Homo sapiens: one gene and its partner. The protein of the gene in region 2 interacts with the protein of the main gene of each other region in a pairwise test. Each region holds a gene or a part of one and is shown on either strand. Other genes may lie near its edges. The genes, in order: DEDD and BATF2.

Region 1 (3,814 bases), on a different chromosome or scaffold from region 2:
ACAGCTTCTCTACCTCTTCCCCAGGACTATTTCTATGTATCTCTGAAATCCTTGCCTGAATGCAGGAGGTTCCCTTAAACGGGACATGCCGAGGTCAGCACTGTTCCCATTACTCACAGGTAGCAACTTGTTTATAGGAGATATTTTCCTAATTACCAGGCATAGAAGTTCATTTTAATACTCGACTTGGCTCATCCTACAATAAGGATGTCATAACAACATCCCTGTGATGTAGTATTAACTAACAAGAGTTGAAATGTACCCTGCCACAATCATAAAGAGCAGTTCTTCCACCAGACACCAAACCATTCAGCCTCACTTTGCAATGGCAATCAAAGTGAATCTCACACTGAATAGCATAAACTGCCCAGTGTCCCAGCAGTTCTTTATATTCTCCTTCAAGTCTGCTCCATCTCTGGAACCCTTGAACTTCCTCACCACATGTCTGCTTCTCCTTGGGATCTGGTGTCACTGACTTCCGGCGTTTTCGCTGGCTCCCAAGTGTGGCTCTCCCTCGGGCTGGCCGCTTGCTACACATCTGAGGACCCGAAGTGGGGCAACACACCACAGGATAGTGGGGAGGCACTGACCAGAAAGTAAAAGGGAAGAAAACACAGTAGGGTAAAGGCAGAAATTCAAACACTTCTGTTGGAATGAGGAAGGAATCATTTAGACTTAGCACTAAAAGCAGTGGAAAAATGTGACTTGAAAAGACATGTGAGACCAGGTGCAGTGGCTCACGCCTGTAATCCCAGCACTTTGGGAGGCCAAGGCGGGTGGATCATGAGGTCAGGAGATCGAGACCATCCTGGCTAACACGGTGAAACCCCGTCTCTAAAAATACAAAAAATTAGCTGGGCGTGCTGGCGGGCGCCTGTAGTCCCAGCTACTCAGGAGGCTGAGGCAGGAGAATGGCGTGCACCTGGGAAGTGGGGCTTGCAGTGAACCGAGATTGCGCCACTGCACTCCAGCCTGGGCGACAGAGGGAGACTCTGTCTCAAAAAAAAAAAAAAAAAAGACAAGACATGTGAGAGCAAATACAGGACCTAGGAGAAATGTCACCTCGCCTGATTTTTTTTTTTTATGGGGCAAGATGTGGGCGCACAGCATCCTTTCATTTAAGCTGGCAAAGCCCAGAATGTGATGGGATCAGTGTCCTTTTACTTGATGATGGAAAGCAGGGGGAGTTAATGTCTTCTCACCTGTTTTAGAGGGCTGGGGAGGCCTTGGTTCTGGATCACTGAGGGCTCTGGGGGTCACATAGCGAATTGATGTCTCCTCCAGATACTTGTCTACAAGATCAGGGCACACTGTAGGAGGAGAAGTAATCATTCAGGAAAATATACACCCTTCCCTTCTGTCAGTCCAAACCCCCAGTGGGCCTCACAACTTACTCTAAGTACTCCCCAGGATCAATGTGTCCTCCCCTTTGGACGCCTATGCTGCTCCTTCCTGGCCTCCCACAACTCTTCCCTGATTCCAGCCCCTAATACTTCCTCACCAGCCCGTCTCCTCTTGAGGGTGACGTAGGGCAGCAGGTCGTGGCGAGTGATGATGCGCAGCAGCTGCAGCACCTGGCGAAAGTTACTTTCATCACAGCGGCCCTGGCGCTCCAGTGCCAATAAGAAGTCACGTCCATTTCGGATGAGTCCACGCTCGTGGTCATCAATGACATCAACAAAGAGGAAAGAAAGCACGCGCACATCTCTGTGTGTCAGATGAGTGCCCACGATGTCAAACATGCGGTGCAGGCTGTACAGCCCATGTTCCTGCTCACCATGCTCTTCTGGCCACACCTGGCTTGCCCGCCGCTTTAGGCCCGCCATGCTGGGGGCTCAGGTACGCAATGCTTTCCAGAATCCCTGCTCAGCAGCTGCAATCCCCACCGTACTGAAAGGGCAGGGAAAGAACCGATGAGACACTCAAGGGCAGGAACTAGTCTCATGCATTCCCATATTCCCAGTTGCTAACAATGCCTGGCACAGTATAGTGCTTTATACATGTTTATTAAATTTTTGAAGTGTTTGTTTAAAAATAAACACTGGCCAGGCACAGGGGCTCACACCTGTAATCCCAGCATTTTGGGAGGCCAAGGCAGGAGGATCACTTGAGCCCAGGCGTTTAAGACCAGCCTGGGCAACATAGGGAGACCCGTTTCTACAAAAAAAGAAAAAATTAGCTGGGCTTGGTGGTACACGCCTGTAGTCCCAGCTGCACAGGAGGCTGAGGTGGGAGGAAGGCTTGAGGCCAGGAGTTCAAGATCAGCCTGGTCAACATAGCAAGACCCCATCTCTACAAAAAAGAAAAAAATTAGCAAGGCATGGTGGCATGTGCCTGTAGTCCCTGCTACTCAGGAGGCTGAGGCAGGAGGATCACTTGAGCCCAGGAGTTCAAGGCTGCAGTGAGCCATAATCCTGCACTGTAGCCTGGGTGACAGAGTGAGTCCCCCATCTCGGAAAAAAAAGAACTAGTTTAAATTCTGACTGTATCACTGAAAGGCTGTGTAGCTGTGTGACCGTAAGCAAGTCACTTAACTCCAGATTCTCAGTGCTGTCATCTATAAACAGGGATGAATGAATATACACCTCAGAGTTGTTAAGAATCCAATGAGAAAATCACGGGTAACCCTTATATAAATGGTTGTGAAACATTTCAAAGATACAAGCATCCTTGGCCTTTGCAGCCCAGAATCATCCCTCCACATTTTTCCTACAATCCAACCACATCAAGAAATGATAACTGCTCAGAAAGTTTATCAATATTTACCAAAACTCATGGATTTAAAATAAACATTAAGTTTCTACAATAAGCATTCTTGTAATTCTATGCCATTTGTACTCCCTTGATCTTCACCCTATTTGGCAATATCAACTTTTTTTTTTTGAGATGGAGTCTCACTTTGTCACCCAGGCTGGAGTGCAGTGGTGCAATCTCGGCTCACTGCAACCTCCGCCTCCCAGGTTCAAGCAATTCTCGTGCCTCAGCCTCCCAAGTAGCTGGGATTACAGGCACGCACCACCACGTCTTGCTAATTTTTGTATTTTTAGTAGAGATGGGTTTTTACCATGATGGTCAGGCTGGTCTTGAACTCCTGACCTCAGGTGATCCACCCACCTCGGCCTCCCAAAGTGCTGGGATTACAGGCGTGAGCCACCGTACCTGGCCTTGGCAATACCACCTTCTAAGCTTTCCTCATGGATGTCATTTACCAATCCCCTATCAATGACCAATCACAGCTCCACATTCGTTATATAGTTTGGCTCTTGATTCACAAAGTTCCTCCATCGTTATGGGCTACAGGTAATACCAATGACGCAGCCATTAATCAATTCCCAAATTCAACAACTTTGACTCAAGTCACTCATACTTACTGCTCCACCAGACAGTACCATCCTATACTGTGCACTCTCTGGTCACACTCTCCAATCACACAATCAATCCTAAATTCCTGTTAATGCTACTTCTAGATATTTCTTAAATCTATCCTACCTTTCCACCTCCACTGCCATGGTTCAGATTACAATAATCTCTCACCTGGACTACTGTAACTTTAAAAGTTCTCTGCAACACCAATCTTAACCTACCTAAATCCATCCACTGCCACATCTAGTTCAGTTAGCTGTCTGAAGTCCACAACTGACCAAGTCACTTTCCTGCTTCAGACCCATTGATTGCCCCATCGTTATCTATAAGAACACTCCAAACTCTTTTTTTTTTTTTTTTTTTTGAGACAGAGTCACTCTGTCGCCCAGGCTGCAGTGCAGTGGCGCGATCTTGGCTCACTGCAACCTCCGCCTCCCAGGTTCAAGCGATT
Region 2 (3,578 bases):
GACCATCCTGGCTAACATGGTGAAACCCTGTCTCTACTAAAAATACAAAAAAAAAAAAAAAAAAAAAATTAGCCGGGCATGGTGGCAGGCGCCTGTAGTCCAGGAGACTGAGTCAGGAGAATGGCGTGAACCCGGGAGGCGGAGCTTGCAGTGAGCCGAGATTGCACCACTGCACTCCAGCCTGGGCGACAGAGCGAGATTCTGTCTCAAAAAAAGGAAAAAATTAGCTGGGTGTGGTGGTGGGCACCTGTAATCCCCACTACTTGGGAGGCTGAGGCAGGAGAATCACTTGAGCCCGGGAGGCGAAGGTTGCAGTGAGCCGAGATTGCACCATTGCACTCCAGCCTGGGTGACAAGAGTGAAACTCCATCTCAAAAAAAAAACAACATTAAAAAAAAAATCTCTCTGTCTTCACACACACACACACACACACACACACACACTCTATTGGTTCTATTTCTCTAGAGAACACTGACTAATACACCTGCGCAAGTCCGTCTCATCTCTGAGCCTCAGTTTCCTCATCTGTAGTATTGGAGGGAGATTAATTAGCTGGTTCATGAGGGGTTGCCCATCTCTGTTATTCTCTCTTTTTTCAAAGACTCTGTAGGTTACAAAGAGAGGTTTAAGTAACTAGGCAAAGCAGAAAAGATTGCAAAACACTTTATTTCCATCACATATGTGCCAAGACTTGTGTTCTGTATCCAGGAGTGTGTTAGATACTAACATAGTGTTTCATTTACATGTGTGTGAAACCTGGGTGAAGAGCCAGGGTTTCTCTCCCCCACCCGCCTCAGAGTGCTTGTCCTGGAATCAGAGTGTAAAACCCCCTCTTGAAGCAGACACCAAAACTGAACTTCCACCCGGTCATGGGCCCTGCTCTTCCTGCTGTCAGCCTAGTCCAAAGAGCAATGAGGGAACTGCTTAGGAGGGGTCTGAGGGTGATGAGGGCCTGGGGGCCACACAGGGGTGGGTGCTGTCAGGTACAAGCCCATCCCTGCCTGCAAATAACCTTGCACAGGGTCCTTCCTCATTCTTTCCTCTTCCTTTTTGTTTATGAGATGAATGGCTCTTCTGCTGTGGCTTTAGGGGCAGTGGGGAGGCAGGGAGCTATTTGGGAACAGCCTGGAAAGCTGACCCTGCAGAATCTCCCAGAAGCCTTGGTGTGGCTATGGGTACCCAGGCTGTAGAAATCCCAGATGGTCCTCTTCCAGACCTCTCCCCAACTCCAGCTCACAGTTTCAGCTTCTTGGCACTGAAAACACTACTAGGGGAAGCAAGAGTCCACTTCAGGGCTTCTGCTTGGCCTCTACCCACCAGGGCTTGGACTCTGGACCTGCCCCAGCTAGGTTGGGGTTTCTGGGACTGCATGGCTCTGGCCCTGGAATCACGAAGCAGTGGGGAGAGCCCTTCTCTGCTCTGAGCATGCAAACCTTCTCACACCAGCCCACGGTTTCCAGGATTTCAGCCCCTAGGATGCCTGGGCCAGGACAGGAGAAGGAGGAGCAGAGGGTGGTGTTTCGGGCTCCAAGAAAGTCTTCGTGACCTTGGACTTGTCACTTGGCTTCCCTGAGCCTCAGTTTCCTTGTCTGAAAAAGTGGAGTGATAATCTCGATTTCTCAGGTCAACTGTGAGGTTGAAATAAGATATTGGTGGTGACAGGGCCTGTCACAGTGGGAGGCATCAGTGGTGGCTTCCTTTTCGACTGTGAAATCCTGGGCCAGCTGGTCAGCCACGCAGGGCAGCACCCAGTAGTGAGGGAGGAGAGGCCCGTGTGCTAAGGCTGCTTCCTGAGCCCAAAGAAGGGGCCAACCCAGCTCCGAAGACCAGGTTAGAAGTGGACTTGAGCAGAGGAGAGCAGAGGAAAGGCCAGGAGAGGGTGAGGGCTGGGATCCACAACCAGCCCTTGCCAAGTGGCTGCTGAGAGAGCAGGTTTGTGCTCCCTGCTCTGCAGACGTGCAAGCCCCAGGGCAGAGGAAGGGTTGTCGGGAGAGGACCCCAGCTTCCCTCTGGTGGGATGCTCCAGCTCGAGGGGCTGTGGAGGGGCAGTTTGGGCCGTGAGGCTGGGCTGGAGGGCACTGAGCTTAGAGGAAGACCCCTGCAGGCTGGAACCAGTGTGCGAGGCAAACAGGAGAGGGCTGGGGGACAGCTGGACAGGAGGTTCAGCAACCACAGCGGGGCCAAGGGACAGTGAGGGCAGGGGGCACTGGAGGAGGCTGGGAGAATCATGAGGCTGTGGACCTGGAGAGAGCGGCTGAGCTGGGTAACAGGAACCCGGGGTCTGGAACAGCTCCAGCTGCTCCCGGCAGCCATGTTGTCCCTGTGGGCCAGGGCCCAGGAGCCCCTCAGCCTGGTCCCAGCAGCCCAGGAGCCCTGGAGCTGAGCAGGAGGCACAATCCATGGGGCACAGGCGCTCATGCACGTGCAGGGTCCGGCTCCACCACGCCAGCTCGGCCTGCAGGGACTGGATCTCCTTCCGCAGGGCGAGGTTGTCTTTTTCCAGAGACTCGTGCTGCTGCAGAGAAGCAGATGGGCGGGGAGGGGAACCTCAGCCAGTGTCAGGGGCCCCGCATGAGCCTTAGCCCCTTCCAGGGTCCTCAACTTCAGGAGAAAGATGCCACCACCATTGGAATAGCCAAGTGGGGTCTCTTGGCCACTCTCTGGCCAGCCCTTCATAACCACCTACCAAGTCTCCCCTGTCCCACCCTCTGAAGGGGGCTCAGATCCGCCTGCTGTCATCCCACCACTAGTGCCCTGAGCCGGTGCCATTTCTCACCTGGGATATGCACGGGCCTCCAACCCGTGTGTCCCCCAAACCACCTATTCTCTTGCCCACAGGAGCCATTCAGCAACCATGTCATTAATTGCAGGTTAAAGCCCTTTAGAGGCACCCACCAAATTCCCTGTGGTAGAATTCCAGGCCTGTGTAGTGGCTGCAGCTCAGACCTCCGGTCTCCTCTCTCTCGCCTTCTTTCTTGCTCCCCTCCCTTCCTGACCCTCACATGAACTCTGCTTCCCGGCCACATTTCCTGTTTCCTCTGCCTGGACACCCTTCCGCCGCCCTTCTCTGTGCAAATCCCAACAGGGCCTTCCCGTGGCAACCTTGATGTCATTCTGTCCTAGATTGCTTATTGCCACTGCCCTTTTGAGGGCCCAGAACTCGCCCCTACGAGCACTGTGGGAGGATTCAGGGGATTGTTTTACAGGTTGACAGCATGAGTGTGTTCGATTCTGCATCCCTGAATCAGCATTTATTAAGTTCTGTTCTGCTGAACGCCGGTTCTGAGAACCCCTGAGACACAATCAATGTGCAGTTCTAAATAACCATTTATGATGACAGTAATGGTAAAAATGCAGAAAGAATTTTATATCCACATCTCACAGGGCTGAATAAATTGAACGACTTCCTTCAGTCCCCCACCCCCTTTTCTGGACACTTTGAAAGAAGAAGTTGCAAAGGTGTTTTGCATAAAAATGTGGTTTTGGCCCTGGACTCAAAGTTCTTTTTTTTGAGATGGAGTCTGGCTCTGTCGCCCAGGCTGGAGTGCAGTGGCTCGATCTCGGCTCACTGCAAGCTC

Evidence for each region.
Region 1: the proteins of BATF2 (region 2) and DEDD interact in a two-hybrid assay, tested with the Homo sapiens proteins (one large-scale study listed by BioGRID and IntAct).

What each region holds. Positions count from the first base shown.
Region 1 is NC_000001.11:161,122,637-161,126,450, forward strand, and holds part of DEDD (death effector domain-containing protein), read right to left. Parts: intron 2,810-3,814; exon of another isoform or gene 1,891-2,809; 5' UTR 1,827-1,890; coding exon 1,502-1,826; intron 1,311-1,501; coding exon 1,203-1,310; intron 586-1,202; coding exon 439-585; coding exon of another isoform or gene 349-438; intron 1-348. UniProt on the Homo sapiens protein: A scaffold protein that directs CASP3 to certain substrates and facilitates their ordered degradation during apoptosis. May also play a role in mediating CASP3 cleavage of KRT18. Regulates degradation of intermediate filaments during apoptosis.
Region 2 is NC_000011.10:64,987,298-64,990,875, forward strand, and holds the end of BATF2 (basic leucine zipper transcriptional factor ATF-like 2), read right to left. Parts: intron 2,981-3,578; exon of another isoform or gene 2,846-2,980; coding exon of another isoform or gene 2,777-2,845; intron 2,516-2,776; coding exon 1,832-2,515; 3' UTR 648-1,831; downstream 1-647.